Linked DNA regions of Homo sapiens. The protein of the gene in region 1 purifies or fractionates together with the protein of each later gene. This does not show direct contact. Each region holds a gene or a part of one and is shown in the gene's direction. Other genes may lie near its edges. The genes, in order: BBOX1, TANK, BOK and CIAPIN1.

Region 1 (8,602 bases):
ATTTCAAAAAATGAAAAGTTTCCATTTCTCCCCACATATCAAATTCATTCTAATGCATTTCCTCTGGCTTAGTGACAACCTGTTTAAACATGTGTTTCTTGCATTTTACAGACATACTTGGCAAGTGCAAGACAAAATCGATGCAAACAATGTGGCTTACACAACTGGGAAGCTAAGCTTTCACACTGATTATCCAGCCCTCCATCATCCACCTGGGGTAAGTGAGCTTCAACATATTTTCCACAAAGCATGATGATGACCAGTATCTTTTCGTATTTTGAGTCTAGAAGATTACACATTTCACCAGGTAGTTTGTCTTTTATAAATTTTTTCTCCAAACACAATCCAAGCTCACAAAATCTCTGTACCTAAATCCTAAATATCTTCACATTCCTAAAGGAGAGGATAATTTCATTCATTTAAAACAACAACAACAACAACAAAAACATTTCTTTGTTCTTCCTAGAAATTACTATTAGCATTTTTTGCTTTGCCAAGACAGATTTTAAGGTAGGAGTAAATCTTAAGGTCTTTTTGCACATATATTTCTAAGAAAGTTAAGAGAGAAAATGAAATCAGTAAACAAAATGTAGGGTTTCCCTCAAAGTCACATGGGCATCATTCATATCCATTAACTACTGCTGCATTAAAACTCATTCTACTATAAAGACACATGCACATGTATGTTTACTGCAGCACTGTTCACAATAGCAAAGATTTGGAACCAATCCAAATGCCCATCAATGACAGACTGGATAAAGAAAACGTGGCAGATATACGCCATAGAATACTATGCAGCCATAAGAAAGGATGAGTTCATGTCTTTTGCAGGGACATGGATGAAGATGGAAACCATCATTCTCAGCAAACTAACACAGGAACAGAAAATCAAACACCGCATGTTCTCGCCTATAAGTGGGAGTTGAACAATGAGAACACATGGACACAGAGAGAGGAACATCACACACTGGGGCCTGTTGGGGGGGTTGGGAGGATAGGGGAGGGATAGCATTAGAAGAAATACCTGATGTAGATCACGGGTTGATAGATGCAGCAAACCACCATGGCACGTGTATATATATGTAACAAACCTGCACATTCTGCACATGTATCCCAGAACTTAAAGTATAACAAAAAAAAAAAATAATAACTCACTCCCTAACTTGATGGCTTAAGAAAACATCCATTTACTTAGCCCTTGTTTTTTCAATATGGGCTGTATTCAGCTAGGCAGCTCCTGTCTTCAGTCATATACCTGCAATTGGTTGCTAAGTTGGCTTGGGACAGATTGACTTTCACTGAGATGGCTGGTTTCTGCTCCACTCGGTCTATTCACCACCAGTAGGCTAGCCCAAGTTTAATGCATATGGCAACTAGAAGAATTTTCAGACAGCTACACAACTTCTCAAGGCCTGGGCTAGTCACCTCTGCAATGTTATATTGGTCTAAGGAAGTAATAAATCTAGCCCACATTCAGGAGGTGAGGAAATAGACCGCTTATGGAGGAAGCTGCAAAAATGCATTATAAACTGTGTGACTACAAGGAACATAATAACAGTGGCTATTTTTGGAAACCATCCAACATCCCATCTATCAGATTCCTTGTCAAGGAGGGAAATGCTCAGTGTGAAGCCACAAATCCCCAGGAGAATCTCTGGGTGGACATTCTTTCTCTACATTTTTACAAAAGTTTCATTTTACTAAATGAGCTACATTTTTACAAAATCATCATTTTATTACACCAAAAATAAGTGGTTAGGAAACTACCTTTTAAAAGATATGCCATCCCTATTTTTACAGCTAAATTAGACTATGTGAAATAACCACATAGAAACCTATATCTTCAAAGGCAAATGAAAATTTGGGCAATTCTTAAGTTAACAAAGGAGAATGGGCCAAAATCACAATTAGCCCAATTTTTTTTTCATTATCTTCACTGTACATGTTTTCTCTGTGCCCTTATTGTTACCCATTCTTCTTGCCAGTATTAGCTACGCTAGTCTAGTATTTAACTTTACATGTTATAAATTATTTTGTTGATTGTAAAATACCACATGATTTCTTTGAACTAAGTGGCAGTAAAATGACCCCTGTAGACACACTTTTGGGTAAGGGTTGGGGGCAGGAGACACCCAGTGTGATTTTATTCTAAATGTGGCTCAGATTTTTCTAAAACCCTAGAGTTAAGAGCCAAATTAATCAGCTCAGCTCTTCTTCCAAACATAGCTTGAGGGAGTTGGATGGAATAAGGCTTAAAGAATGAGACTAGAAAACTAAAAGTTTTATTTGAATTTTTAAATTATCTTCTGTCTTTTAAGAATTTAAGTTTTGTTTCTGGGTTAAAATTTGAAGCCTAAGGAAAAGTGACCAAATGACTTCATAAATGTTCCTGAAGTATAATAGAATGCTTGACTTTTTCATAGTCATAGCACATTATACTACTTCAAAGCAGTTTTGCTTTCATTATTTTATCTGACTCTTCTTGACATTCCTTTAAGGTAGACAAGATTGATCATGTCTTTTTATGTCAGATGAGAAAATGAAACACGAGATTCAATATTTTTATAGGGTGACATTTGATTAAGGAGGAACTTGGACTTGAACCCAGGCCTCCATCTAGTTTTCTGTCACACCACACTGATCCTGAGCTGGAATTTCTAACTATTATAATTTATGTAGTAAAATAGAATATTTATAGATTTTATCGTACTTTACAAACTTCTTAAAGACAAGAATTGACTCTTGGGAAGAAAAAAGTTCTTTGTATTTCAATACTTTGTATCTCAATATTTACACGCACATTGCATGTAATAGAGACATCATAGATACACTATAAAGAGGCAAAGAAGTGCAACAAACCTGTACCTGTCTCCAGCAAATGAAACATCCAAACTAAGTGACTTGATAGGAGATTTTAAAATAGCAGATGATTCCTAAAATGTCTAGATTCTACTAGAATAATAAAATGTAGGCAACCTGTTTGTACTGTTGTTCAAACTTCCATTTTGAATTATTCCAGGTGAGTTGTGCCAAGGTTTGAGATTTTCTATAACAAACAGAACAAACCAATATATTTTTCTGTATAGATGAAATAATCTGAAAAATGAGTTACCTGTTGAGAGTTCAGTTTGATCGATTTGGATTATGTGGGGCAGAGATAAGGCACCACATCTTTAATGAAACAGAGATGTTGCTTCACTCACTGTTTTTGCAGAAGTCACATGCTGCATAAAGTAACATTCAGAAGGAAAATATTTTTGGTTCTGAATGACTCATATGAAGTAAAATTGGGTTTTATACATGACAGGCATGTATTTGCGTTTTAACCTAGCAATAAAAGTATTGTCAGGCTCCATCATCTTTTTTCTATTTGAAGATTGTATTAAAAGTGTAACTGTACAAAAGAAAGTATCAAGGGGCCTTGACATATGTAAATAACATTAAAAAATGATCTTTTTAAAAATTAGCACTTGAAATATTCTGTCAGTTCATGATGGCAAAATCTAAAAGGATTTAAAGAACACTGTGATCCTCCAAAAACAAAGTTATGCTATTGTTTTGCTACTCTGACCAGTTCCTTCCTCAAAAAAAAAAAAAAACATAATCCTATGTAACACCACTGGCCTAATACTTTGCAGCTCAGTTCCGACTACATTACTTTCATATTCAAAAGCCTTCAGTGAATTCCCTCTATGCACAAATACAAAAGCCCTTCATCTGATATTTAAGACTCTCCATCATGAGGCCTCACCAATTGCCCTTCCAACCTGATTCACTCTTTCTATTTATGGCCCTCTGCTGTAGCCAGACTTTTTATTACCCAGTGAACTGTGCATTTTTGCACATCATTATTTCTGTCACCTGATTTGCTTTCTCGTTCTATTCTGCATAACCCAAATCTCATCCATTCCCCTTTGCCTAACTTACCCGCCTCTTCCCCTTGAAATCCTTCCCTGCCTACTCCAACATCAAGTGCTCCATCTATGCAGCTCTTACAAGCTGTTCTTTTTGTTTGCTAATGAGCATTATCATGCCTGCATCTATGTCTTCAACTGTAACATGTTTGAACTATACAGTATTGATTATAAGCAACTTTTTTCTTCCCAACTCTTTTCTGATGACATAAGAAAGACAAAAAAAAAAGTTTATTGGCTTTGGTTCATTCATAGCTTTTTGAATCTTTAACACAGTATCAAAAAATGGTGCATGTATATTATTTTATTTTATTATTTATTTTATTGAAGATTAATTCTAATAATTAAAATGTAATTTAATATTTATTTAATAATGCATATTTTCTTTTTATAGGTTCAGCTTCTTCACTGCATAAAGCAAACAGTCACAGGGGGTGATTCAGAAATTGTAGATGGGTTTAATGTGTGCCAAAAACTAAAGAAAAATAATCCTCAGGCATTCCAGATTTTGTCCTCTACCTTTGTGGACTTTACAGACATTGGAGTGGATTACTGTGATTTTTCTGTACAATCAAAACATAAAATTATAGAGTAAGTACTATTTATAAATTTCCCATAGCAATAAAAGAATTGACAACAAAAGATCCACTAATCTAAAGTTTAAACAGCACAAAACTTCAACGAACTTCAGAGCTTTATTTTTATTAACATTTCACCCAATTTTAGAGTGATAGTATTTTCACCATAAAAGTTTTTATTAAATTACATAAAATTTATCCCTAATCAGTATTAGAGGAAAAGTAACTAAGATTTCACGTATACTTCATTTTTAGAATATAAGTTCTACATAGCTATAATCAATGTGATTATACTAGTTAGAAGGCTTTTGGCCAGAAGTGAAAGAATATAACTCAAAATAGGTTGATCCCAAGAGTTAAACAATGTCATGTGATATTGGTCTCTTTTTTCTTCTTAGCTTTGCCATCTTCTATGTTAGCTTTATTTTTCAAAGATGATCAGCAGAAGCTCCAAGATTTCATTTTCCTTACAGCTAGTAATCACACCACAAACAATGCTTTTACTTCCCAATAAAGCTAGATGACTCAATCCCTAATTTCTGTCCAAGTCTATCCCTGAATCAATCATCATGGCCAGTGGGTTAGAGAATTCTGATTGTCCATGCCTGGATCACATGTTCAACTCTGGAGCAGGGTCAGCCTCATCTGAATCACACGGACTGAGAATGAAACAGGGAGGCTCCCCAAAGAGATACTAAGCCAACAAAGATCATATATTACCTACACAGAACATTTTGTATTCTCCCTTTCTTTTTATTTAATATTATTTTATTATAATTTTTCCAAGTACCTACAAAGGCCACAAATTCATCTTTTTATTTGCAAATTAACTTACATTTTGTTTCTACAACAGTTTATTTAATTATACCTCGATTAATTTTGGTAGGGGGGTATAATTTTAGAATTTTAGAATTGAGTTTAAATTTTTCTATTAAGAGAAACAGCCAAATGGTATGAAAATAAACTCATTTAGAAAATAATTAAATCCCCAGTACATTCATTTATTCATTCAACAAATATTTATTGAGGCCAGCCACTTTTCTTGGTACTTGGAATACATCAGTGGACAAAACAAAGATCTCTCCCCTCATATAGCTTATACTCTAATGGGGGAAGGGAAATTTTAAAGATTTTTAAACAGATGAGTAAATTATAATAAAAGTTAAAAATTATTAAATGCTTAAGAAAAAAAGGAAGAGCATAGCAAGATAAGGGGAATCTGTAGGGCTTAGCAAGGACGGAAATTGCATTATTAAAGAGCGTGGTGAGGGAAAGCTTTACTGAGATTTGAGCAAACACTTAAACGAGTGATGGAGTTTTCAGAAGAGAAGCAGTTTCCCGAAACTGCTAGACCAAAAGTTCTAAAAGGGTCCTAAGGACATGTCTGGAGTGTTCAAGGAACATCAAGGAGACCAGTGTGACTGGAACAGAGTGAAGGATGCAAGTATTAGGGGAGGAAGTCAGGTAGGGACAAGTTCCTGTAGAGTCTTGTTAGCAAATTATAACAGTAACATTTACTCTGAGTGAAGTAAGAAGTTGCTGCAAGATCCTGATCAAAGGAAAGACTTTGATATTTATGTAAATTTAGTTATATTTTAAATGGGTCACCCTGACTGCTAGAAAGAGCAAGGATAGTAGCGGGAAGACCAGCTAGGAAGCTACTGCATGACTCCAGGCTAGCAATGGTGGTGCCTTGAACATGAGTGGCTAGAGTGACAGCAGTGGTGGTGTGGAGAAGGATCAGTTTTTGGTTACATTTTGCATGTATAAACAGATTGTTTTCGTGAAAGATTGGAGGAAGTGTCTGAGAAAAAGATAGACGTCAAGAATGAAATTCTAGTCCAGAATAAACCTGAGACGTTTTCTAAGAATTCACTCATCAAGGTGAAAAGGAAATAACTTGAGACCCTTAGTTATAATGTGACAGTTTTAACTAGTCAAATATTAACTTAAAAATTCATGACAAATCAAAATTTTGTTAAGACACAATACGATTACAGATTCTGCAAGGCTAGTGAACAGAGGCAAGAAACATAGCTATAGATAAGATTAACTGAATGTCCACCATGTGGCTCATGACTTGGCTTTGATATTTTCTGTAGTAAAATTTCAAAATTTGGCCATGTGTGAGGTCTCAGGAATAGCCCCTAGAGAATAAATATCAAGTGGTTAACATTAATTCACTTAAAAGTATATTTTCAACAACAGGAAATGAAACAGAGCGTTCTCAGTTAACAGAGGGCCTCCATCTCCTAAGTGTTTGGGTTAATTTAATTTTCTTTGTGGTTAAATCCTTAAATTTTTATGTCCTAGTACAAAAATGTCTTTTATGCTGCTGACTGAATTACTTATAATTCAGTACAAAGAAAAATAAATCAATAAAGAAACAAGCAAAATTAATGACGGTGAGACTCAGCTATCCTATCAACTACACATTCAATCACGTAAATTCAAGTCTTTTACTTGCCAGCTGTGTAATCTCTCATGTGATTATTTACCCTTGCTGATCCACAGTATATTTTCCAGTTAAAAAAACGAAAACAAAAAATACTGCCACACATGATTGAAGTAGGAATTGCAGAGTTAATATATGGAAGCCCCTACTATTGTGCCTAGTTTAGAAAATGCAGAATACATTTTAGCTAGTTATAATATGCATGAAGTCCAACACACTTACTGGGGGGAGATTTCTATTTCAGGTCTGAATTTCTAGAAACCAAAGCAAACAGAGACTATAATCAGTTATAAGACAAGATGCTTTCGAAGTCCGAAATAAATTTTTCCTGCAGATCCTCATAAATTATGACATGGTAGACAACACTGTAGTAGTATTCCCACAACAAATACAACAAGTTCCATAAAACATTGTATCTATCAATGAGACATAATGCTGTCACTAATGAGGAGTATTCACAACACAAACTGTGGAAGATCATTTTAAAAGTCCTTTCTTTGGTTTTTTTTTTGTTGTTGTTGGCATCATTGATAATGTTTTGCTTTTGCTGGTTCACTGCCACTATGTTGTTGGTTTAAGTTTAATTAATTTGTCCTTTATGTATAGCGAATGTATAGCCAGTTACTCCCATCTTTTGTGGCTTTTTACCTTTCCTCAGCATGCAAACTTACATTAGACCCTGCTGTTCTGTTATAAGGCATCAAATTTCTTGCTAACCTTCAATTTTTCATTTTAGGTTGGTCTTCAAGGTACCAGCTACCCATCTCCTCTAACATTCTTCAATCCTCAGAATAATGTCCCCTCTATATCTTACAACAAAATTTGCTTTCCATTCCCCTATTATTGCTGAGAATGCTAAATAATACATTTGTGTCTTGTTTTCTCAGATAAACAGTAGGTAAAAGAAAGCAGGGACTGTGTTACACTATAACACACACAAAAAGTTGATTACTTTTCTATATAGGTGAACTCTTAAAAATGAAAGCCTAATCTAGTATACCATGAGGCATCCAATTCTGATTTTCATTACATTTATTAATCACAAAGTTCATTTCACTGATACATGAGGATATACCCAAGGACTCTAGAATAGTTAGCTCATAATTAGCATAACCATTCAAATCAAGGAGCTATGGTAATAGTGGAAGAAAAGTAAAGCAGATCTTGAGGGTGACTGAAACAGACGACCCCCCCAGAAGTTCCAAAGTCATGACATCCCTTGGCGGATGACACAGAGGATAATGTTATATGTACAGAACACATAACAAGAAAAAAAAAGAGGAAAGTGGGTCAGAAGCAGTAGGGCTAGAATCTTGCAGTTAATATCAAAAGGCAAATGGCCTCAGACACTGTGACAGAGGTCTGAAACCAGCAGCATGAACTCTAAGGGGGTAATTGAAAGGTCGTGTAGTCTCTGTACCACTAAATCCTAGAGGTACACAGTCTTTTCTACTGACTTCCCTTCCATCTGATTCTTTGTACATAAAGCTGTATCCAAAAGGCTCAGAATTCTTGATTTATGTGAAAGCATGTGGAAGCAGGTAGGGTACTCCATTACCTAGTGAGTCACATTTGTATTGTTATTAATACATGCAAATCTATGTTTTAAGAGTCTAAGAGCCTTTTTGAAAGCCTGTTCCTTCCTTTTACTTCTT
Region 2 (8,602 bases), on another chromosome or scaffold:
TCTGGGAAGAGTACGTGTATTGTCCCTATGTTATTTTGTATTAAAATTTGATTTTTACTTTTAAATAACCAGATATGATTCATTTGAAAATACTGAGTTAGTAGAATTCTACATTTCCTATTTATTATTACTTTGTTTTTTCTACTCATCTACATATGGCAGTAGACTTAAGAAATGATAAAGATAAAATGTATGTTTATCCATAGCTTCAAATAAAGTACTGTTTGGTTCATAAAGGAGTGTCCAATTTCAGTAGAGATTGGGAAGGAAGAATATAGGATTAAGGGTAACAAACATCCATGAGAAGGGTAATAAACAACCATGAGGTCTTTTTCTTTTGTCAATATACAACGTGATTATACTGAGAAGTAACTAAATGGATAGCCTGTATTTAAAACTGGGAAATCTAAAAATATTTCCCATTTTACTTTTTCCTTGCAAAGCTAAGTAGTCTTAAAATAGACAAAATAGAAAAGCTATTTGCTCACCTGATCATGTTTCTCAATATGGTGTCAGGATGACAAGTGCTTTCATGCATCTCATTTGAGTTTTAAGTTGTCTCAGCTTAGATTTCTAGTAGCATTAGGAATGTAAGGTTTAAATTTTTTTAATAGATATTAACTCTCACTGCTTGAGCAGATTAACTCAGATTATTTTAATGTGGCTGAGTTTTATGCCAGCTAGCTTTGCTGAAAGAAAATATCTGTTTTTTTAGAGCTGTTTGATTTCTCCTCGTTTTGTTCACAGCGGGGATAGATCAACTGCTAGAAAAATAATTCAAAGCACATTTCTGTCAATTTGGGGACTTCTCTCTATATATAGAAACCAACATGTTCAATTTAGCCTAATGGTTCAGAGCACAAATCTACAGTTAGGTTGCCTGGGTTCCAGTGGCAGATCTACCACTTACTATAATAGTTGTGTGGCCTTTGAATTAACCTCTCCAACCAGTTTCTTCACATGTAAAGTGGGGATAATAATAGTGCCTGCCTCAGGATTACTTTGAGTATTATATGAATTAATGTACATACAATTATTATAATAGTACATGCCATGTGGAAGTGCTATTAATGTTAATAGTCATTTCCATTAGCAGCAGCAGCAGCAGATTCTCCAGCATTCACCTTGTTCTCCTTGTGAAGATCATTTGATAAGTCTCTCCTCTTCGGGTGTTACAGAATCTGATTACCTCAACAGTTGGTTTTCCTGATTTGTTATTTGCAAGTAGCAAATGTCATCTACAAAGACAGTACTGTTTCCTAGACTTTCCTACCACTTTCAAGTCTACTGCCAGGGAAAATGACTACTCGAGAGTTAATGGACTTTAAGAACCTCAGAGGCTAAAGAAATCCAGATAAACAATTAAGCTTGGTGACAATTACTATAGCACTCCTAGTCATAGAGTATCTGGTAAATGTTGATTATTATAGTAGGCTTTGTAGGGGAGAGATTACAGATTCATTCAGAATTCATTTGTTAGGGGCATACTATGTGCCAGACACTGGGCAAGGGTCTGGAGTTAGAAGGAAACAAAACAGTTTAAGACCTCAAAAAACCTACTTTAGTGGGAAGAAACAGAGTTATACTTGGAAATACAGTCATGTGCCAAATGACATTTTCAGTCAACAACAGATTGCATATACAATGATGGCCCCATAAGATTATAATGGTACTTAAAAGTTCATATCAGCCCAGGCACAGTGGCTCATGCCTGTAATACCAGCACTTTGGGAGGCTGAGCTGGGCAGATCACCTGAGGTTGGGAGTTCGAGACCACCCTGACCAACATGGAGAAACCCCGTCTCTACTAAAAATACAAAATTAGCCGGGCGTGGTGACGCATGCCCGTAATCCCAGCTACTCGGGAGGCTGAGGCAGGAGAATCACTTGAACCTGGGAGGCAGAGGTTGCGGTGAGCCAAGATCATGCCATTGCACTCTATCCAGCCTGGGCAACAAGAGCGAAGCTCGGTCTCAAAAAAAAAAAAGTTAATATCACCCTAGTGACATTGTAGGTAGCTGTTGTTACATTGTAGCACATTTTGTTTTTTTTGTAAATTTAGTGTAACCTAAGTGTATAGTGTTCATAAAGTCTACAGTGATGTACAGTAATATCCTAGGCCTTCACATTCACTCACCATTAACTCACTGACTCACCCAGAGCAACCTCCGGTCCTGCAAATTCCATTCACGGTAAGTGCTCTATACAGGCATACCCATTTTTTATCTTTTATGCCATATTTTTACTGTACCTTTTCAGTGTTTAAATACACACATACCATTGTGTTACCTGCAGTATTCAGTACAGTAACATGTTGTATAGGTTTGTAGCCTAAGAACAATAGGCTATACCATATAATGTAGGTGTGTAGTAGACTATACTGTCTAGCTTTCTGTAAGTACACTCTATGATGTTTGCACAATGACAAAATTGCCTAAGACTGCATTTCTCAAAATGTTCCGTCGTTAAGTGACACATAACTATATAACAGTGTGTTTCAGTTCTCAGGGCATCCAAGAGTCATGGGAGAGTCATCCAGAGAAACTTATGTCCAAGCCAAGATATGAAGGACAAATAAGAGTTGGGCAAAGAGTAATGGGAGGGGACACTTCAGGCAGTCTGCACAGCAGGTGCAAAGGTGCAAAGACAAGAGAGTGTAGCTATTTTGGAGAACTATACAAAGTTCATTATAGCCAGAGTATGGAGTGAAAGATGAGCATGGAGAGATGACCAGGGGCCAGTCATGAACAGTCTAATAAGCCTTTTCTGAGATCTGAGGGGCTTGTAGAGCCATCAAAAGATTTTATTAGGAAGGTAACTTGGTCAGATTAGTATTTTAGAAAAACTACTCTGAGAATGAAGGGATGGAGGGGAAGTTGCAGTGAAGAGAACAGATTGGATATGAGACAAATTCAGAGGCAAGGAAGCAGTTTAAAGGCTGTTATAATAATCCAATAAGAAAGGATGGTATGAAGAGAGGTATAAAGAGAGGCAGTAGGTATATAACAAAATGAACCAAAGAAGTTGGTTGCATTTTACTACACATACCCAAACAGAAAAAAATATATTGGAATGTGCTGTGGCAAAAGACAGAGAGGTGTCATGAGACTGCCAAGACCAAAGGAATATAAAGGAACTGACATTTGTTAAGTGCCTACTAACCTGTACAGATACTTTGTATACCTTGTGTTCTGTATACCCTGTCTACCTAGATTTGCATCATTGGTAATGTCTCCATTTGTGAATGTTCAACAGTGCTGATGACAATCCTTAAAATACATACATTACCAACTTCAGTGCCTTCTTTAAGGGACATTGTGGAGCTTAATTTGGCTTTTTCTAGTGTCTCAGAATCATCAACATGGAGAGTACTTTGATGATTGTTTTTTTGTATTGAGCACTCATTGGCCCTATACTAGACTGTAGTGTTTTCTAAGTTCTTATATCAGCTTCTTTGTCTTTCTTATCTCTTCCTATGCTTTTAGCTCTTGTTGATATCTATGTCTGCCTTTAGCAACTCATACTCCCTTTTAATTTGCTGTTTCAAACCAGCTATGAGCTGTGGAAATACCACCAAGTTTGTTAGAATAAATCTAAAATGACAATAGGAACAAAATTCATCTATCTATGAACCTTGTGGCTCTAATTCTGGCTCCTCAGAAGCTCTGTTTTCTTTCTAGCTTTTGACTGTGTCCTACAAAGCTGAATTTGTTGGATAAGTGGTTCTAGATAAATGAGCTACAGAGGCCCTTTTGTCTACCAGATATTTACCTGTTTTTTACAGAGGTCTTTTTTAAAAAAAGATATAAGATGATAAAATAATCTATTCATCCACAGTTTTCTTAACATGCATCACAATATTTCATCCTTCCTTTGCCTTCACTGTCTTCTTTTTCCCAACTCCTGCAACCACCAGTCCCTCACATGGATTATTGAGAGCAGACAGTGGCTAAACTGATTAGTGATATACTTAGTTAGACAGTGACATTAATAATAAATGACCTAATTTTAGATATACCTAGTAAGATTTTCCCTTTTAACAACTTATTTGTCTAAGCAAACTCACAGTTATAGCTTCCGTTACTGACAAAATGTTTAAATGTATACACTACAAGCAAATGTTTTTCAAGTGTGGAGCAGTGTAACTGTGAACAAGATGCAAAGCTTACGGCAGAAGACTTAGGAAAAGACAAAGTAGTTAAATTGCGACTAATAAGCTATGTTTCAGTTCACCCGCTGGAGACTGCTAATATTCTGTGTAAGATGGTAGCAAATTTTAAAATCCCAGTTGTCTTCATTTGCTATAAAAACCAATAGAAAAAATAATAATAATCTCTCCAAAGCTGATTGAACAGATTTTTTTAATGATTTGAATGCGGCTGTTTCTCTTTTGTGTTCTTCTCCCTCCAGAAACACAGTGCTCTGTGCCTATACAGTGTACGGATAAAACAGATAAACAAGAAGCGCTGTTTAAGCCTCAGGCTAAAGATGATATAAATAGAGGTGCACCATCCATCACATCTGTCACACCAAGAGGACTGTGCAGAGATGAGGAAGACACCTCTTTTGAATCACTTTCTAAATTCAATGTCAAGTTTCCACCTATGGACAATGACTCAACTTTCTTACATAGCACTCCAGAGAGACCCGGCATCCTTAGTCCTGCCACGTCTGAGGCAGTGTGCCAAGAGAAATTTAATATGGAGTTCAGAGACAACCCAGGGAACTTTGTTAAAACAGAAGAAACTTTATTTGAAATTCAGGGAATTGACCCCATAGCTTCAGCTATACAAAACCTTAAAACAACTGACAAAACAAAGCCCTCAAATCTCGTAAACACTTGTATCAGGACAACTCTGGATAGAGCTGCGTGTTTGCCACCTGGAGACCATAATGCATTATATGTAAATAGCTTCCCACTTCTGGACCCATCTGATGCACCTTTTCCCTCACTCGATTCCCCGGGAAAAGCAATCCGAGGACCACAGCAGGTAACTGTTTTGCATTAACAAATATATTATTATGTGTGAACACACATTTTGCCATACATGCACAGATATGCATCTCTTTTACGTTATCAAACATCCTTTTTAAACTACTGACAGCCAAAGTTAAGGCTTTCAAAAAAACAAGTCCCATAATAAATGACATGAAATTAGAAAAGCTGAATATGGTAAAACTTTATTGGAAAGTACCTTAGAATTTATGTCAGATTTAAAAATACATGTTAAGCCTTATCCATATCTGTCGTGGTGTCACTTTCTTAGTTCCTTATTCAAAGCTTGTTTACTCAGGATTAATAAGAATATTAAATTTCATAGTGTGAAACAAATGCTGTTTTATTTAATAGTTTGTGTATATCATATTCATCTTTATAAGAATTCAAGATCTTTCATAAGTAAATAATTGCATCTTACATTTCTATTTATCAAAATAAGTGAACTATCTTTCAGTGAATACTTCTACTACATCTTCAGTTATATAGTACACAGATCTGTAGGGTTTAGTTTGGTTTTGGTTGCTAATCTGGAAATGAACATGTAGCCTAGTATATTTTTTAAATAGTCTCTGCATGTGTATGATATCAAATATTTTATTTAATGTTTCTAAAGCTCACAGACTAATATCCCCCAAACCACTCCTGCCCTCCCTTTTAGATTCAAATTCTATCACAGAATGATTCTTTTAGTTAAAAAAAAGTTTAATGTCTGAAAGCAAATGAAAACTATATAATTTTTACAAAAAACAGAAGCTTATGAAAATACAGATTGATGTAAATGTCTATGTAACTTGCAAACATTTGTCTGATTTCTCTTTGCCTTGAGATATTTAATTTTTTTAAAAAAGTTATTAATACCCTTTTGCTTTAAGTACACATATAGGTTATAGACTTAAATCAGCACGCAAAGAAGGCAGTTGTCAAGCTGTGGTATATTTTAGTAGTGGGAAGAACTAGGCATGGCTGACAATAAGTTTTAATTATAACCTCACTTATGTTCTTGTTCATTGTACTTTATTTCACATCATAGTCTCAGTTATAGTTGCTACTAAATGAAACAAATTAAACAATTTCATTTATTGCAAGTAGAATTCCTGTGGAGCTGTGAAGTGCATCAGTTCTAATGCTTGTTACTTTTTTCTCTATTATATGTCTTGCTTGTTCTTTTACTAGTCTGTGCATTCATGTTTCAGTAGATGGCACCCTGCATTGTACATTTGCTTTCTATACTACAGCAAGGGAAACAGCTGGTATGTGATTACAACTTGATGGAAAAGTATTCAGCTTAAAAAATTCAGGAGAATTAGTGTTGAGTTGTCACAAGACATGGGGCATAAGGTTAGATAATTGATATTTTGGCAGAAAAAGCAAAGAAATTAGTTTGTTTTGAAGACCATGTTACAGTTTAGGATGGAAAGAATATTTCTTAAAATGAGTTTTTTAAAAAAAACCTTTTAAGCTATTTTATTAGTATTAATAAAGCTAGTATTATGCAAGCTAGTATAAGTACAAAGCTAGTATAAGTACAAAATTCCTGAGTTGGGCCAGGTACGGTGGTTCATGCCTATAATCCCAGCACTTTGGGAGGCTGAGGCAGGAGGATTGATTAAGCCTAGGAATTTGAGACCAGCCTGGGCAACATAGTAAGACCTTGTCTCTACAAATACGTATAGTTATATAGATATATGTAGCTGGGTGTGGTGGCTTGTGCCTGTGGCCTCCAGCTACTTGGGAAGCTGAGGTGGGAGGATTGCTTGAGCTAGGTAGTTCGAGGTTGCAGTGAGCTGTGATGGTGCCATCACACTCCAGCCTGGGTGACAGAGCAAGACCCTGTCTCAAAATAATAATAATAATTTTTTTTTTAAAAAAATCCTGAGTTGTTTGTAGATAGTAGCAAAGACAAGTGAAATTTTTGGCTACATATTTCAAAATTTTACTTTCTATCAATCATTACTACTAAACATCTATTTTATATATTCAGCTATCATAACCAAGACTAAAGTATATCAGATTATTATTGTTCTATGTGATTTTCTTTTTTACTTTGCTGAGTCAGTGAGTGGGATCCCAACTAAATTCTATGAAGAGATCAAATCTGAACTAAAAGTTCTTAATAGAGAAAAATGAATATGGATTTAATAGGTAAATTGGGAGTAGAAGATTGGCTTACCAAATTTAGAAGCTAAATTGCTTCTGATTTAATTTCTTACTATTTTATATAAATAAGAATTATCTTTAATAATCTTTTATTTTTGGCCATATCAATTTCCCATTACAGTGATTTGTACTTTTTTGTTTAAACTGAAAACATTAAAATTAGAATCAAGTTAACTCTAACTAGATTTTTGTTTGTATGCTCACAATTTTTACTACTTTTATCAAAGAAGTTTTTCCAGAGAGTTATTTTACCCTAAATTTTATAACATTTATTTTAAATATTACTATTTTTGTAATAAAATTGACATTTCTTATGAAAGGAATTGAGTCAGCATTATTATAAGTCCTCCATACTGATATTTGAATGTGTCTGGGTGCCTAGACAGACGTTGTATATTTACACCAATTGTACACAGCTGTCCAGTAAACTGTTCATAAGAAGACAGTGATGTCGTGAAATCCAAGTGCTTCCATTAGTAATATACTGTTTATGTAAATGATTGGTTAACCAGAATGAAAGAAGTTAGGGGAAATAACAGTAACACTTGTCAGGTGCTAGACTAGGATGTGTGACTTTAAAAACATATTAGTAATAGGAGGATAAGGGGTCTCTTTAAATTTGACTTTATGAGATGATTCTTCTTAAAATATCAGAATTTAGCTGTGTCAGAGGAATTTACCTGTGTCCACATAAGAAATTTTAAAAAATAATTTGGTTTACACAATTCAGGAAAATATTTTCCAGTTAACAGACATCTATTGTGTAGCTATTATTAAGCTAAATGCTATTTCTTGTCCTTCTAGAAATTTAAAAAAAAGAATAAATGCAGTTATGAAAGGGTATTTATGTGCTGGTTATAGTGGAGGTGGTTCTGTTAGATTATGACTTTCCATAATTCTTTAACCAGGCAACTATTGACGAGTTTCACTTTATTCAGCCACAAGAATGAGTAAGGCCAAACTACCTATTATATAACAGAAGCAAAGTAAGAAGTCAAAACACTGCATGTGTTAGATTTTGTTGAATGATTAAATATTTGTGTTTTTAAAAACAAAAGATAACATCAGTGAAATTTGTTCAGTAGTTTAAAAGGAAAATTTTCTTTTTAAAAATCAAAATAATGCTGATTCATGTATGATGTATTCACTGTATTTGCTTATAAACAGTAGTGAAATTGATTTTGATTAAGACGCAATGCACACACACATCATGTCTTGTGTACTATGTAATTAATAAAGCCCCTATAATTTAAGGTTTTTATTGTAAAAAACAAAAGATAGAATTTAATTTAAAAGACCAGAGTATTAGCTATTGTTCCAAAACTACTGCTGTTGTGATCGAGTATTAAAAATTGCATGCTAAAGCTGCAATCTTTTTAAATATATAAAGATAAAATGCATGACTGTGTGTGTCCCAAGTGACTTTTAATCAAAGTTTAGTTGTGC
Region 3 (8,046 bases), on another chromosome or scaffold:
CTCCAGGGACCACTGCTGACTCCCTCCGGGGACCGCTGCTAACTCCCTGCGGGGATCACTGCTGGGCTGCATGTTTTGTGGCCATTCAGATACTGCCAGTGCCCTCAAGCTGGGCTTCCCACCAAGGTTTACAAGGCTGTGCAGTGGCCTGAATCCTCACACTGCCATTTAAAAGCATGTATTTATTTATTTATTTAGAGACGGGGTCTCGCTCTGTCGCCCAGGCTGGAGTGTACTGGCGCGATCTCAGCTCACTGCAACCTCCGCCTCCCCGGGTTCAAGTGATTCTCCTGCTTCAGCCTCCCGAGTAGCTGGGATTATAGGCGCGTGCCACCACGCCTGGCTAATTTTTTGTGTATTTTTAGTAGAGACGGTTTCACCATGTTGGTCAGGCTGCTCTTGAACTCCCAACCTTGTGATCTGCCCGCCTCGGCCTCCCAAAGTGCTGGGATTCCAGGCGTGAGCCACCGCGCCTGGCGTAAAAGCTTTTAATGCAACAGATTACATTTTGTTTTAATTTGCCTTTCTTTGGTTATTAATGAAGGTAAACATTTTTCGTGTCTCTTATTATAATTTTCTTTTGTGAATCAGCTGTTCCAGTTCTGTGCTCATAGTTCTTTTTTGAAAGCCTCTCTTTTCTCGCTCACGTATAAGACGTCTTTCCGTGTTGAGGCGTCGTGTCCTGCCTTTTATTCTTTCCCCCGCTGTCACCATCTTTCGTCCTCTCTTTCAAGGCTGCTCCCATCTCAGTTCAGCCTCAGCAGGTTAGGGGTCTGGGGAAGGCAGTTTCTCTGCGGGCCTCAGCTTCTTTATGTGTAAAATGTGGACGCCAGGCCTGTTGTGGGAACAGGCAGCCCAGGGGTGCCACCCGTGAGGTCACTGGCTGCTCACTCCATCTGCTGCTGCCCTCAGTTCCCTCGCCTCACCCCACGTTGTCCCTGCGGCCTCCTGCACAGACGTGGGCTGGGCAGGTGTGCAGTGGAGGCCGAGAAACCTGCCTGCCCAAGAACTACCTGACAGGCATCCTGTCAGGGAGCGGTCCCCCCTTGGGACGGTCCCTGGTCATTAGCTGGACGGCAAGCAGGACAGCGGCTCAGAGAGGCCCAGCCCCTTCCTTAAGTGCTCCCGTGGGCGGGATTCAAGTCCTGATCTTGACCATCTCTCTCCCTGCAGGCATCACGTGGGGCAAGGTGGTGTCCCTGTATGCGGTGGCCGCGGGGCTGGCCGTGGACTGTGTGAGGCAGGCCCAGCCTGCCATGGTCCACGCCCTCGTGGACTGCCTGGGGGAGTTCGTGCGCAAGACCCTGGCAACCTGGCTGCGGAGACGCGGCGGATGGGTGAGCGCCTGAGTGCCCGTGTGGGTGGGAGAGCTGGGGTGCGAGGGTGCAGAGGTACAGGAGGGAGTGGTGGATGGGTGAGCCTCTGAGCGCCTGGGGGGTGGGAGAGCTGGGGTGCGAGGGTACAGACGTACGGGAGGGAGTGGCGGATGGGTGAGTGTCTGAGCGCCTGGGGGGTGGGAGAGCTGGGGTGCGAGGGTGCAGAGGTACGGGAGGGAGTGGCGGATGGGTGAGCCTCTGAGCGCCTGGGGGGTGGGAGAGCTGGGGTGCGAGGGTACAGACGTACGGGAGGGAGTGGCGGATGGGTGAGTGTCTGAGCGCCTGTGGGGGTGGGAGAGCTGGGGTGCGAGGGTGCAGAGGTACAGGAGGGAGTGGTGGATGGGTGAGCCTCTGAGCGCCTGGGGGGTGGGAGAGCTGGGGTGCGAGGGTACAGACGTACGGGAGGGAGTGGCGGATGGGTGAGTGTCTGAGCGCCTGTGGGGGTGGGAGAGCTGGGGTGCGAGGGTGCAGAGGTACAGGAGGGAGTGGTGGATGGGTGAGCCTCTGAGCGCCTGGGGGGTGGGAGAGCTGGGGTGCGAGGGTACAGACGTACGGGAGGGAGTGGCGGATGGGTGAGTGTCTGAGCGCCTGTGGGGGTGGGAGAGCTGGGGTGCGAGGGTGCAGAGGTACAGGAGGGAGTGGCGGATGGGTGAGTGTCTGAGCGCCTGTGGGGGTGGGAGAGCTGGGGTGCGAGGGTGCAGAGGTACGGGAGGGAGTGGCGGATGGGTGGTCACCTGAGCACTCCTGGGGGAGATGGGTGAGGCAGGGGGTGGGGCAAGGGCCGAGACCTACAGGCAGGCCCTGGACTCTCCTCTGCCCAGATCCAGCACTGACTTACCCCCGATCCTACCCCTGTGCTAAGGACCCGCTGCCCCAGCCCCCGCCCTCCCGAGTGGGAAAAGCAAGGCCCCGAGGGGTGGGTGTCAGAGCCAAACCCTTCCTCTGTCTCCACGCCCCCAACTTCCTGCCCTGCTCCGGCCAGACCGCAGTTGCCGCTGGGCCCTGGGTGTGGAGGGTGGCTCCCCTGCCGAGAGTCTAGCCTTCTTTCCTGTACAGCGGGTGTTGGCCTGGTGTGTAAATCAGCGGCCAGGGGTGACAGCGCTCAGACCCCTCTGCTGGGGCCTTAGCTTTAGCATCTCGAGAGATTGAGGTCACGTGGTCTGCGGGGGCTGTGGTCTCCTCTGAAGGCTGAATTGGGGGTGCAGAGGGCAATGTCCCAAGATGTCGCACATGGCTACAGGTGTCCCTCAGCACAGAAACCCCAAGACTTCCGTCCCCTCCTGTCTTCCTCCTGTGGAGTCTGGCATGGGGCTGGGCACTGTGTGCCCAGTGGGCGACGACACTTTGAGCAACGCCAAGGCCACAGGTCCAGGCTGCAGGGAAAAGCCTTCATGTATTAGCAGGAAGTGAAGGGAATAAGAGAATTGGACGTTCATTCACTTCCCCAGAAGGAACTTCAGAGTCCAGGGAGTCCGTGGGCTTCCGGAAACGCAGTCCCTGCTGTTGTTCCAGGCAGAGTCTGAATGAAGCTGGGTTTGCCCCTTCCTGGTAGCCCAGGCTCCAAGGCCCCACAGGAGGATGACGGCGGCATACCTGTAGCCCCTGGGGGGCAGCAGGCAGGTGGCCGAGGGGAGCTGGCACCCTGGTCTGGATGTCTGGAGCCCCAGCGAGGGCCATGAAGGCCTCTCTCCTGCTCGGCAGGGGCCCTCCGGCCGGCCTGCCTGGCTGCCATCTGTCCCCACCTCCCGTGCCTCCTGGCCCTTCACACTGTCTGAATGTGCACGGCATCGGGTCTGGTCTTGTGTTGGAGCCTTCAGTCCAGGCCACAGACCTCCTTCCCGAACAGTCTCCTGCATTCCCTTCATGCAATTTTGCTGATATTCTGGTGCACGGTGCTGGGGGGCCTGGCGGTGCTGGGGGCCTGGCGGTGCTGGCTCTGCTTTCTAACGGTCTCCCTCTTCCCTCCCAGACTGATGTCCTCAAGTGTGTGGTCAGCACAGACCCTGGCCTCCGCTCCCACTGGCTGGTGGCTGCACTCTGCAGCTTCGGCCGCTTCCTGAAGGCTGCCTTCTTCGTGCTGCTGCCAGAGAGATGAGCTGCCCACCTGGCAGTGGCCGCAGCCTGGCCCTCTGGGCCCAACGCAGGAGGCCCTCAGCACCCGAACACATCTTCCTCCTCCCCACCCGAGCCTGGAGCACTCTAACCCTCGGAGACCCCCTAAGCCCCGTTCCTCCGCAGACCCAGGCCCTCCGGAAGGGGTGAGTGGGGAGGGGCTTTCCTGAGCCTGGAGCTGGGCTTTGGGGCAGCCTGCGACCCTCCCCGCTTGTGTCCCTTCTCCTGTGATCTCTGTGTTTTCCCTTTTCTTTCTGGGGCCAGGAAGTCAGGGTCAACTCCCAGGCCTCAGATGCAGGGGCCCAGAACACCTGCTCTCACCTGAGCCCCAGGTGAAGGGGCCCGGGAACACCTGCTCTCACCTGAGCCCCAGGTGAAGGGGCCCGGGAACACCTGCTCTCACCTGAACCCCAGGTGAAGGGGCCCGGAACACCTGCTCTCACCTGAGCCCCAGGTGAAGGGGCCCGGAACACCTGCTCTCACCTGAGCCCCAGGTGAAGGGGCCCGGGAACACCTGCTCTCACCTGAGCCCCAGGTGAAGGGGCCCGGGAACACCTGCTCTCACCTGAACCCCAGGTGAAGGGGCCCAGAACACCTGCTCTCACCTGAGCCCCAGGTGAAGGGGCCCGGAACACCTGCTCTCACCTGAGCCCCAGGTGAAGGGGCCCGGGAACACCTGCTCTCACCTGAGCCCCTGGTGAAGGGGCCCGGAACACTTGCTCTCACCTGAGCCCCAGGTGAAGGGGCCCGGAACACCTGCTCTCACCTGAGCCCCCGGTGAAGGGGCCCGGAACACTTGCTCTCACCTGAGCCCCAGGTGAAGGGGCCCGGAACACCTCCTCTCACCTGAGCCCCAGGTGAAGGGGCCCGGAACACCTCCTGTCACCTGAGCCCCAGGTGAAGGGGCCCGGGAACACCTCTCACCTGAACCCGGGGGTCCCATCCCAGGAAGAAGGGCCATCTCAGGACATGAGTCCTCAGGGGCCCTGCACATTCAATCTGAAGGTGACCCTGGCCTGGCTGAAGCTGGAAGAGCTGTGGGGACTCAGCCTGTAAACAGAGCGTAAGGTTCACATGCTGGTTGCTTAATCCGTTTCTGGAGGAAGAGTATGACACCCACTTGTGATGGGGTCCTTGTGCGGTGGGGACCGGGGCCGGCGGGCTCCAGGCCAGCACACCTAACCCATGGATGTGGAACCTACGGCCGAGAAGGAATGTTGCATGAGTCGGATCCCAGTCCATTGTCAGTGGAGGGTGAGGGTGACCCCATCTGCTATTTTTGTGCTCATCCTCATACAACCATTTGGGGATGTGCCTATTAGGGCTCCGTAAGAACTCAGATGCCTGGGAAGCCCAGCCCCTCAGGTGCCCCCACACACAGCCTTCCCTTGACGCCTACATTTCTAGGCACATGTGAGGCATCTTTCCTGGAGCCCCGAGCCAGCCCTGTCCCTCCCCAGTGCAGCATGGCACTCAGGAGATACAGGCTGGACATGGGGCAGTCGTTCTGGGGAGGCCTGGCCTAGCAGCCACCCACCTGAGCCCTCCCGGCCAGGCTTCGTGCTGGGGTGGGCCATGTGCCAGGACAGGAGGGTCCCGGCGGAAAGCCAGCCCCGGACTCATCGTGACATTGAGATCCCACTGGAGGGTAGGGGTGGTAATAAACTTCTCCAAACGATCGTTGTCATTTTAGACAGAATGTCACTGTGTGTGTGTTAAATAGCTTCTACCTATACACAACATGGTAAGAGGTGCGGAGGGTTTGCTTGAAAATAATTGAGGGTGGGGAGTGGCGAGAGGGTGGGGATGGGAGGGTTCCTGGAATTGGGTCTTTATCCTGATTAGATGTAAAGGCACTAATGCTGATTTCCAGTAGTAAAAAGAACACCGATAGTCCATAGTGTGATGTGGCAATAGAGGTATGCATAGTATCACCACTGGGTGCTCCTAATTAAATACTTGCAGAAGGCAGGGTTCTCGGTGGCTTTTGAACACTTTCATCAAACTAGAGTATAATGGGCCAGGACCAGTAGCTCACACCTGTCATCCCAGCACTTTGGGAGGCAGGAGGATGGCTTGAGGCCAGGAGTTCAAGACCAGCCTAGGCAACATAACAAGATCCCATCTCTAAAAAATAAAATTAGTCAAGCACGGTGGCCTGCACCTGTGGTTCCAGCTACTCTGGAGGCTGAGGTGGGAGGATTGGTTGAATCTGAGAGGTTGACGCTGCAGTTAGCTGTGATTGTACCACTGTACTCCGGCCTGGGTAACACAGTGAGACCCTGTCTCAAAAAAAAAAAGCCGTGTGTGGTGGCTCACGCCTATAATCCCAGCACTTTGGGAGGCCTGAGGCGGGCAGATCACCTGAGGTCAGGAGTTCAAGACCACCTTGGCCAACATGGCAAAACCCCAACTCTTCTAAAAATACAGAAATTAGCCAAGTGTGGTGGCAGGCACCTGTAATCCCAGCTACTCGGGAGGCTGAGGCAGGAGAATTACTTGCACCTGGGAGGCAGAGGTTGCAGTGAGCTGGGATTGCCCCACTGCATTCCAGCCTGGGCTACAGAGTGAGACTCCATCTCAGAAAAAGTATCATGGGAGTGAGCTCAGGATTCAGATTCCCAGCTGAAGTGTCACATGAATAATCTGAAAGTTATGACTGTCCCAAGAGAGACTCTTACCTCCTTTAGCTGCGGGTCTGAGACTACTGAAAATCAAACCCAGAATCTCGCCCTTCCAGTGGCTGGATTATAGCACATGTGGAACTCCCAGCCTCACGGTGTCTGCTGTGCAAATGAAGGCATTGGTTAGGAAGGAATGGGATCCTGTCAGTTGGGATGAGGATGTGTGGGGTGACCCTGATGAACAGTGAAGACAACCCCTAAATCCTGATGAGTCTTCAGTGGAAGAGGCCTTCCTAACCCTAGTGGTAGCCTCCCCAACTCCATCTGAGTGGGTTAACCCTGTACTGCCTGAGGAAATGGGACTGCCCTGAGGCTGCTGACTAGCAGGACCAAGCTGCTGCTTCCCAGGATCTGCCCCCACCCCTCTTTGCTTCTAGACATGGAACTAGACTGATGTTGGGCAGCCCCTAGAGATACAGGGCGTGACCATGAGGAGATGCACTTACCAAAGAGAACGTGAGTTTTCCAGTTTACATAGAAATCCCAGGACCGTGGGAATGCATATTGAGGGCCTGGGAGAATGGTAGGAGGAACACAGAGTTAGATCAGGCCAAGTTTATTGATACGGGCTCACTAAGCAGAGATTCCGCATTTAGAAAGGGCTCTAATTGGTTGGTTGGCTGCTTGGCTGAAACATGGGCCAAAACATGGCCCACCATGGGATAACTGGACATGCCTGGCCGCCCATGGTTAGTGTAGAAGAAGGGATTCAAAGGCTTAGGGAGATTGGAATGCTAGAGTGGATTTGTCTGCCCCATGCTGCTTTCGTTCCCCTGCTAGAGTGGATTTGTCCTCCCTATTCTCCTCTTCCTCCTCCTCTGCAGCCCTCCACTACCCTCCTCCTACATCCCTCCTCCTCCTCCAGTCCTCCTCCCTCTCCCCTTCCCCTGCAACTCTCCACCACTCTCCTTCTCCCACTGCAGTTCTCTTTTCTTTGTAGCCCTCCTCCTCCTCCCCTGCCAGCTCTCCTCCCCCTCCCCTGCAATACTCCTCCTCCCCTTGCAGCCTTCCTCCCTCTCCTCCTCCCGCTGCAGCCCTCCACCCTCCTTCCCTGCAGCTCTACTCTTTTCTTTGTAGCCCTCCTCCTTATCCAGCCCTCCACCCCTCCCCTGGCAGCCCTACTCCCTCCCCTTCCTCCTCCTGTCTGCAGCCTTCAACTCCCTCCTCCTCCTATACTTCTCTCCCTCATCTTCCCTCAGGACCCAGCCCTAATGCCAGCACCCCAAGCCTTCGCTGACCCTTAGCAGGGAAGCTCCCGACTGGGTGCACGCGGCCGTGCCCAGGAACTCTGGTTCGGGCCTGCTGCAGGGCTCGTTTGCCTCTCCAGCGGTGGCTCTCAGGTGCTGCGGTGCCGTGGCCAAGGAGCCACACAAGAAGGCCCACGACCTGTGTCCCTCAGCTTTGTGCATCTGCTTCTCCGGGACGGGGCCCCCTTGAGGGCAGGCCTGGTGGACCACCCTGTTTCCCATGAGGCCTTGCACAGGCCTTCCTGTGGACACTGGACACGGGTGACTGAACCTGAAGTGTGAGATGTTTCTAAGATCTCATGAAGTGTGAGATGTTTCTAAAATCTCTACATGGGCCGACCACAACCTGCTATCTTCTGCTACTGTGTGCCATGCTAGAGCTCCCCTACCCTGGGAACAAACGCCAGGGTGCCCTGCGGCCCGGCTCTCCTCGGTTCCCCTGATCCATCCAGGGAACAAACGCCAGGGTGCCCTGCGGCCCGGCTCTCCTCGGTTCCCCTGATCCGCCCAGAGAACAAACGCCAGGGTGCCCTGCGGCCCGGCTCTCCTCAGTTCCCCTGATCCATCCAGGGAACAAATGCCAGGTGCCCTGAGGCCTGGCTCTCCTCAGTCCTCCGATCGGGTCCA
Region 4 (7,801 bases), on another chromosome or scaffold:
AATAGATGGACTGTGATTTATGTAACCAGTCTATAATTATTGGACATAGAGGTGGCACCCTGACCCTTTTTTTCTACCTTTACTCTCTGCTACTTTATCCCAAGGAACATAGAAAGGATTTTCCTCCCCCTTTTTCTTTTGGGATATAAATTTCTGCTGTCTTCATTGTGGGCATTCTTTCCTGTTACACAGTAGGACCACATCTGGTTCATTTTCATAATTGTATTACATCCCAAATAACTAGTATATGCCTCATCCCTAATGTTTTTTAAGTACTTTTACATTTTCCAAGGGGTAGGCTCCAAGTAAACATGCAGACAAAGGTTATACTCTAGGGTTCTGATCAGTGAGAAACTGAATGTGAGGCATAAAGTGTTATCTGTTACCATCCACTGTTACATCCTTAATGCACAGAAATGAGTCTTTGACTCCTGTGTAGGTAGACATAGTAAACCATTTTACAGAGGAGGGTGAACTAATCCTTTTGATGTCTTGAATTCTAGCTGCAGCGGGAGCCCCTAACCCCTGAGGAAGTACAGTCTGTTCGAGAACACCTTGGTCATGAAAGTGACAACCTGCTGTTTGTTCAGATCACAGGCAAAAAACCAAACTTTGAAGTGGGTTCTTCTAGGCAGCTTAAGCTTTCCATCACCAAGAAGTCTTCTCCTTCAGGTAAGGCTGGCCTAGGGACATTCTTCTGTTTGAATGGGCTTAGAGGGACATGTTAGAAATTGAGCCAGCAATAAATGAGATGGTGATATTTTTAGAGGATTAGTCCTTTGATTTCTGCCATTTCCACAAAGAAGAATACTTAATGTACTATTATCATGGGCATATTAGGATCCAAAACTGAAATAATACATAGGTATTATCTAGTTCAGCTCCTTCTTCTGCACCAGAAGATACCGAGGCCTCCTAATTTTACAGGACTGAGTCACACAGTTTAATTAATGAGGTCCTTCCAGGTCCCAGAATTAACGTTTCTCCTCAGAAGACCTCACAGTGTAGTGGTAATGGTGTATGAGAGTGCCCTGTTCCTGTTCTCATGTGCTTTTTTCCCCATGCCAGGAAAATCAGCTGTTCTTACTTTGAGGATGCTAAGACACTTATAAAACTATATTTCTTCTGACTAGAAAATTGTGTACAAGCACACGCGTGCACGCACGCGCACGCACACACACACACACACACAGCTCCATCCTCATCCTTCCTATCCCTATTTTTAAATGCCTGAATTGACCCAGCTGTGAGGTATGCAGACATTAACAGATATTTACTGGTACATTCCCACTTGTACGGTTTTGACTGTCTAACCTAAATCTTCAAGAAATCCTTTGGAATCTAACCTTTCGATTCATGGTTCCAGAATGGGTAGGAATAGCTTAGAACAGTTGGCCTTGTGGAAGGTATGAGCATCCAGCTGTGACAATGATCACTAGAGGGTACTCTTACCCCAAGGGCCTGCGAGGATTTGCCCACACTGCATCCGAGCCTCAGCTCTCTGCCTCTTCCTTGCATTCTCCTGACTAGACAGAGAACCAGGAAGTGTGAGGTTTGTCTGCCACTGATGGTGTTACCTTGCCACCAGCAGCTCTAGAGCCTATTTTCTTGTATGTAGCAGGTTTACATGAGGCTAAAGCTCTGCTATTTTTGAAGGTTTTGACACATTTCTCATTTAATCCTCAAAACACCTGCAGTAACATAGGAAGTACAATTTAACTTCATGTTATAGAATGGAAACTAAGGTATCGAGGAGGAAGCAATATGGAATGGAGGTTAAAAGCATCAGACAGGCTTTGCAGCCTGTGGAACCAGCCTAAGTGTCTAAACCTGTTTCCTCAGCGGTAAAAGTAGGATGACAGATAGTTACCTCATAAGGTTGTCAGCAGAATTAAGTTAGATAATGTATATAAGTGCTTAATATGGTGCCTGGTGCAAAGCAAGAGCTTAGCAAATGGTGACTTCTGTAACTATCAGCAAGTGGTTGGCCCAAGGTCAGACCTCTCAGAGGGGTAGAGCTGGACTGTGAACCCACATCTTCTGCCTCCCAGGCCAGTGTGTTCTCTTCTACACAGCAGGAAGCATTTATGTATGTTTGTAATTAATAGTTTCTGACTGTGTTTATGGAGTTTTTTCTTTTATTGCTTGGACTCAGTGAAACCTGCTGTGGACCCTGCTGCTGCCAAGCTGTGGACCCTCTCAGCCAACGATATGGAGGACGACAGCATGGTGAGCTGGCAGCATTGTCACTTGATTGCTTTCTTTCAGGCCCCAGTTTGGGTGTGAACAGCTATAGTGACCTTTCTGGACTTGTAGGTGTGAACGTATTTAAAGCCCAGATTTGTGACTATGCCTGTCACATCTTTGATTTAGAAGGAAACTCCATGTTGGTGGCTTTTTTTTTGGAGACAGTCTCGCTCTCTTGCCCAAGCTGGAGTGCAATGGCACAATCTCGGCTTACTGCAATCTCTGCTCCCGGGTTCAAGCGATTCTCATGTTTCAGCCTCCCAAGTAGCTATGATTACAGGCATGTGCCACCACACCTGGCCAATTTTTGCGTTTTTAGCAGAGACGGGGTTTCACCATGTTGGCCAGACTGGTCGCAAAACTCCTGACCTCAAGTGATCTGCCCGCCTCGGCCTCCCAAAGTGCTGGGATTACAGGTGTGAGCCACTGCGCTTGGCCATGTTGGTGGCATTTTAAATTTTTTAGCATCTCTTTTTCCCCACATAATTTCTTGTTCTCACTTCATACGATATGTTGAAAACTCTTGTGGGCATGTGTAAACCTGAAAAGATTTTGTCAGCTTAAATAGTTTTATTGGCACCTTTGGGCAAGTTGCTGACTGTTCCATGCTTTAAAAAGCACTATTTTCTATCTTTGGCCATGTCTGTAATAAAGTTCTTCATTTCTACACCTCTACTATTGAAGTTAGAGTAGTGAGCAAAATAAGTGAGGTTCATGCTCTCATAGGGTTTACAGACTAAGTGTCTACACATTTACAAAGAATTACATAAAGGTATATATAATTATTTGATTTTTATCTGGGATTATGTAAAAGATATTTTATTCCCTTTTTCACGTGACTCTTCATAAACACTTCTCTCTTTCTCTGTTCTGCCTGTTCCCTCCCTTCTCCCCACTCCTGCCCCCAACCCCCAACATGTGTATATTCTCTACACATTGCTGGCCAGTCATACAGCTTTTTCTCATGTAAATTTGTTTCTAATTCCTTTGCATCCTAGTGCATCTTCTGTGGATGTAGTTTAACTCACCGTTGGCCTCTTGAGCATGTGGTCAGGTTGAACATGATGATCAACCAAAAGGAGGACAGGGTGGACACCTTCTTTACCCTGGACTCCAAGTTTCCTCTCGAAGCCTGCAGTCACTTTAGCTTTTCATTAGCAGAGACCACGACTGTATCACTCATTGCTTTGAACACTCTCCAGGATCTCATTGACTCAGATGAGCTGCTGGATCCAGAAGATTTGAAGAAGCCAGATCCAGCTTCCCTGCGGGCTGCTTCTTGTGGGGAAGGGAAAAAGAGGAAGGCCTGTAAGAACTGGTGAGTGCTGGGGTGACTGGAGCCTGCCATGCTGCCTCCAGTGGCTTCATGCTGAAGACATCGCGGTGCTGTACTATTTTTAGAACATACATTTTCCAGGCTGGGCAACACAGGGAGACCATCTCTGCAAATAATTAAAAAAAAAAAAAAATTAGCCAGGCATGGTGGTATGTACCTGTGGTCCCAGCTACTTGGGAGGCAAAGGCAGGAGGATCACTTGAGCCTGGGAGGTCGAGGCTGCAGTGAGCCGTAATTGTGCCATGTATCTAATTTCACTCTCCCTCAAAACCCTACCAGTAAGCCACTATTGTGCCACTGCACTCCAGCATGGGCATCAGAGCGAGACCTTGGTGTCTTCACATTTGTTTTTATAAATGGATGGGAAGGATTGTAGAAAGTTAATCAGTGATGTTCATCATCAGCGTTAATCATCAGTGTTTTTTAAATGTAAAAGCTGCCAGCATTTACAAATCAGGAAATTTCAAGTGAAAACACAGATTTTTTTCCCTTCTGTTCTTGAATTTGGAAAATATGGCAATCTGGGTCCACTTTCCCCAGCATGATAACCAGCTGAAGCTTGAGTAGTGGCTGCCCTCTGTAGACAGAGCACACACGGTACTTCCCTCATCCTCCTCCCACTTCTGTCTCCCTCAGCAGCCTCTCATATTGCTGCTGTCTGCCTGGCCTATAGGCTTCTGAGTTATGACACTGGTGTGAAGAGAAAAGGCTTAAAGCACATTTTGGCACTGTTAGGATTTGGGATTTCTGGGTGGTGACAATTCTCGTTCATTAGTTACTGATTTTCCCGCAGCACCTGTGGCCTTGCCGAAGAACTGGAAAAAGAGAAGTCAAGGGAACAGATGAGCTCCCAACCCAAGTCAGCTTGTGGAAACGTAAATATCAGGATCATTCCTCAGCATTCACAAACCCCCAGGGGGATTAGACCTTCTTCTAAACTAAACACAGACAAGCTCCACCTCAAATATTTTAGTAACAGACGAATGCGTGAGCACACGAACGTAGGTAGTAATGGGGAGAGAGGCTGTCTCCTGAGAGTGAGAGTGGGTTAGCGTGCTTGTGCTGGTCAGGGAGGGTCTTGTTGCTTTTTATTTTTGGCCCATTTCTTTGTACTTCAGAGTGGGACCTGATGGTTAGACAGTTAGCTAAAGTTGGTTGTGTTTTGAACTGCATAGAATATAGAACTATGGCCGGGCGCAGTGGCTCACGTGTGTAATTCCAGCTATGCCAGAGGCTGAGGCGGGAGAATCACTTGAACCTGGGAGGTGGAGTGAGCTGAGATCGCACCACTGCACTCCAGCCTGGGTGACAGAGGGAGACTCCATCTCAAAAAAAAAAAAAGGCCGGGTGCGGTGGCTCACGCCTGTAATCCCAGCACTTTGGGAGGCCAAGGAGGGCGGATCACGAGGTCAGGAGATCGAGACCATCCTGGCTAACATGGTGAAACCCCGTCTCTACTAAAAATACAAAAAAATTTGCCGGGCATGGTAGCGGGCGCCTGTAGTCCCAGCTACTTGGGAGGCTGAGGCAGGAGAATGGCGGGAACCCAGGAGGCGAAGCTTGCAGTGAGCTGAGATCGCGCCACTGCACTCCAGCCTGGGTGACAGAGGGAGACTCCATCTCAAAAACAAAAAAAAAAGAACTATGGCCTCCTAGGGAACTTTTCATGACTATAGTTTTTCACGAAACCAGAAATCTTGAAAACTCTTAGTATTTTGGTCTCAATTGGACCTGCAAACATAGCCATTTCCTTCAGGCCACTGTGGCCACATTATGAAATTAGGCATTTCTTTCTTCTGGCTGGTATGCCTGGGATAAGCTGACCCTTGGCTTCCCCATTCTCTCTCTCCAGTGCTACCTGGGCGATGCCTTCCGCTGTGCCAGCTGCCCCTACCTTGGGATGCCAGCCTTCAAACCTGGGGAAAAGGTGCTTCTGAGTGATAGCAATCTTCATGATGCCTAGGAGGTTCCTGACATGGGACCCATCTGCTCCTCCAGCCAACTCCTGTCCCTCACATCCCACCATGGTGGCTCCTCCCACCTCCTCTGGATTTGTTCACTCTGAGATCTGTTTGCAGAGTGGGTGCTTAGCAGACAGAGTGAAGCTGGCTGGGGGGCACAGTGGTGTGTAGTGCTGCTGTGTATCAAAAGACCAAGGTATTATGGGACCTGGTTTCAGAATGGGATGGGTTTCTTCACCTCATGTTAAGAGAAGGGAGTGTGTCCTGAAGAAGCCCTTCTTCTGATGTTAAAATGCTGACCAGAACGCTCTTGAGCCCAGGCATCGTTGAGCATTAACACTCTGTGACAGAGCTGCAGACCCCTGCCTTGAGTCTCATCTCAGCAATGCTGCCACCCTCTTGTCTTTCAGAGTTGTTAGTTTACTCCATTCTTTGTGACACGAGTCAAGTGGCTCACAACCTCCTCAGGGCACCAGAGGACTCACTCACTGGTTGCTGTGATGATATCCAGTGTCCCTCTGCCCCCTTCCATCCCCAACCACATTTGACTGTAGCATTGCATCTGTGTCCTGTTGTCATTTATGTTAACCTTCAGGTATTAAACTTGCTGCATATCTTGACATATCTTGAGATTCTGCATGTCTTGTAAAGAGAGGGGATGTGCATTTGTGTGTGATGTTGGATAGTCATCCACGCTCAGTTTGGACCATTGGAGGAACTTAGTGTCACGCACAAATGGGGCTATTCCTACGCTTAGAATAGGGCTTGTCTGCCCACTTTAGAAGAGTCCAGGTTGGTGAGCATTTAGAGGGAAGCAGGGCAGAACTCTGAACGACAATACGTCTCTCTGAGCAGAGACCCCTTTGTTCTTGTTATCCACCCATATGGACTTGGAATCAATCTTGCCAAATATTTGGAGAGATTGTGTGGATTTAAGAGACCTGGATTTTTATATTTTACCAGTAAATAAAAGTTTTCATTGATATCTGTCCTTGAAACTTGATTTGATTCTCCAAGTTTGCTTTGCTTATCCTAGTCCCTGCTGGTGGATTTTAGTTGTTTGTTTGGCTAATTGAAGTTTGGCTCCAAAGCCCCTTTTATACACAGGTCTAAGATGACCCCTAGTGACTCATGCCCTTGTGTAATAACCCCCTTGAGTTTCAGCAGGACCTGTGAATGTGATGGGATAATCCCTACTGTGATTAGGTTACCTTCTGTGGCAAAAGTGAAGGGATTTTGCAGATGTAATTAAAGTCCCTAATGGACTTGAAGTTAATTAAAAGGGAGATTATCCTGAGTAGGCTTGACCCAATCAGTTGATCCTTTAAAAGAACTAGAGAAGAATTTCTCTTGCTAGCCATGAAGAAGTAAGTGCTGTATTAGTCTGTTTTCATACTACTATAAAGAACTGCCCGAGACTGGGTAATTTTTAAAGGGAAGAGGTTTAATTGACTCACAGTTCTGCATGGCTGGGGAGGCCTCAGGCAACTTACAATCATGGCGGAAGGCGAAGGGGAAGCAAGACACCTCCTTCACAAGGTGGCAGGGAGGAGACATGCTGAGCAAAGGAGGAAGAGCCCCTTATAAAACCATCAGATCTTGTGAGAACTCACTATCATCAGAACAGCATGGGGGAAACCGCCCTCATGATTCAGTTACCTCCACCCCTCTCGCTTGACACGTGGGGATTATGGGGATTACAATTCAAGATGAGATTTGGGTGGGGACACGAAGCCTAACCATATCAGTTGCCAAGTAGGGAGAGGGCCATTGGCAAGGAACTGTGAGTGCAGGCTCCTCACATGCTGGCAGACAGTCGAGAAAAAGGGGACCTTAGTCCACAGCTGCAAGGAACCGCATTCTGCCAACAACCAGGTTAGCTTGGAGAGGACCCCAAGTTCCAGTTGAGAATGCAGCCTAGCCGGCACCTTGTAAGATCCTGAGTAGAGGCCCCGGTCTTCTGTGCCAGGACTCCTGGCCCACAGAACTTGTGATAAGAAATGGGTGTTTTAAGCAGCTAAATGTGAGGTCGTTGGTTACACAGCAGTAGGAAACTAATTCAGCCCCAGAATGGTTTGACAGTAACAAAATTATTATTTATTATTATTATTTTGAGATGGAGTCTCGCTCTCTCACCCAGGCTGGAGTGCAGTGGTGTGATCTCGGTTCACTGCAAGCTCTGCCTCCCAGGTTCAAGCGATTCTCCTGCCTCAGCCTCCCGAGTAGCTGGGACTACAGGCATGTACCACCACGCCCA

What was found.
Region 2: the proteins of BBOX1 (region 1) and TANK purify together in Homo sapiens (affinity purification with mass spectrometry; 3 studies listed by BioGRID and IntAct, with this or other methods). This does not show direct contact.
Region 3: the proteins of BBOX1 (region 1) and BOK purify together in Homo sapiens (affinity purification with mass spectrometry; one large-scale study listed by BioGRID and IntAct). This does not show direct contact.
Region 4: the proteins of BBOX1 (region 1) and CIAPIN1 purify together in Homo sapiens (affinity purification with mass spectrometry; 2 studies listed by BioGRID and IntAct, with this or other methods). This does not show direct contact.

Annotation. Positions count from the first base shown.
Region 1 is NC_000011.10:27,115,341-27,123,942, forward strand, and holds part of BBOX1 (gamma-butyrobetaine dioxygenase), read left to right. Parts: intron 1-111; coding exon 112-217; intron 218-4,308; coding exon 4,309-4,505; intron 4,506-8,602. UniProt on the Homo sapiens protein: Catalyzes the formation of L-carnitine from gamma-butyrobetaine.
Region 2 is NC_000002.12:161,226,561-161,235,162, forward strand, and holds part of TANK (TRAF family member-associated NF-kappa-B activator), read left to right. Parts: intron 1-4,410; coding exon 4,411-4,991; intron 4,992-8,602.
Region 3 is NC_000002.12:241,568,952-241,576,997, forward strand, and holds the end of BOK (bcl-2-related ovarian killer protein), read left to right. Parts: intron 1-1,173; coding exon 1,174-1,337; intron 1,338-3,345; coding exon 3,346-3,471; 3' UTR 3,472-5,180; downstream 5,181-8,046.
Region 4 is NC_000016.10:57,426,915-57,434,715, reverse strand, and holds the end of CIAPIN1 (anamorsin), read left to right. Parts: intron 1-503; coding exon 504-672; intron 673-2,155; coding exon 2,156-2,229; intron 2,230-3,449; coding exon 3,450-3,565; intron 3,566-4,376; coding exon 4,377-4,458; intron 4,459-5,435; coding exon 5,436-5,546; 3' UTR 5,547-6,529; downstream 6,530-7,801. UniProt on the Homo sapiens protein: Component of the cytosolic iron-sulfur (Fe-S) protein assembly (CIA) machinery required for the maturation of extramitochondrial Fe-S proteins.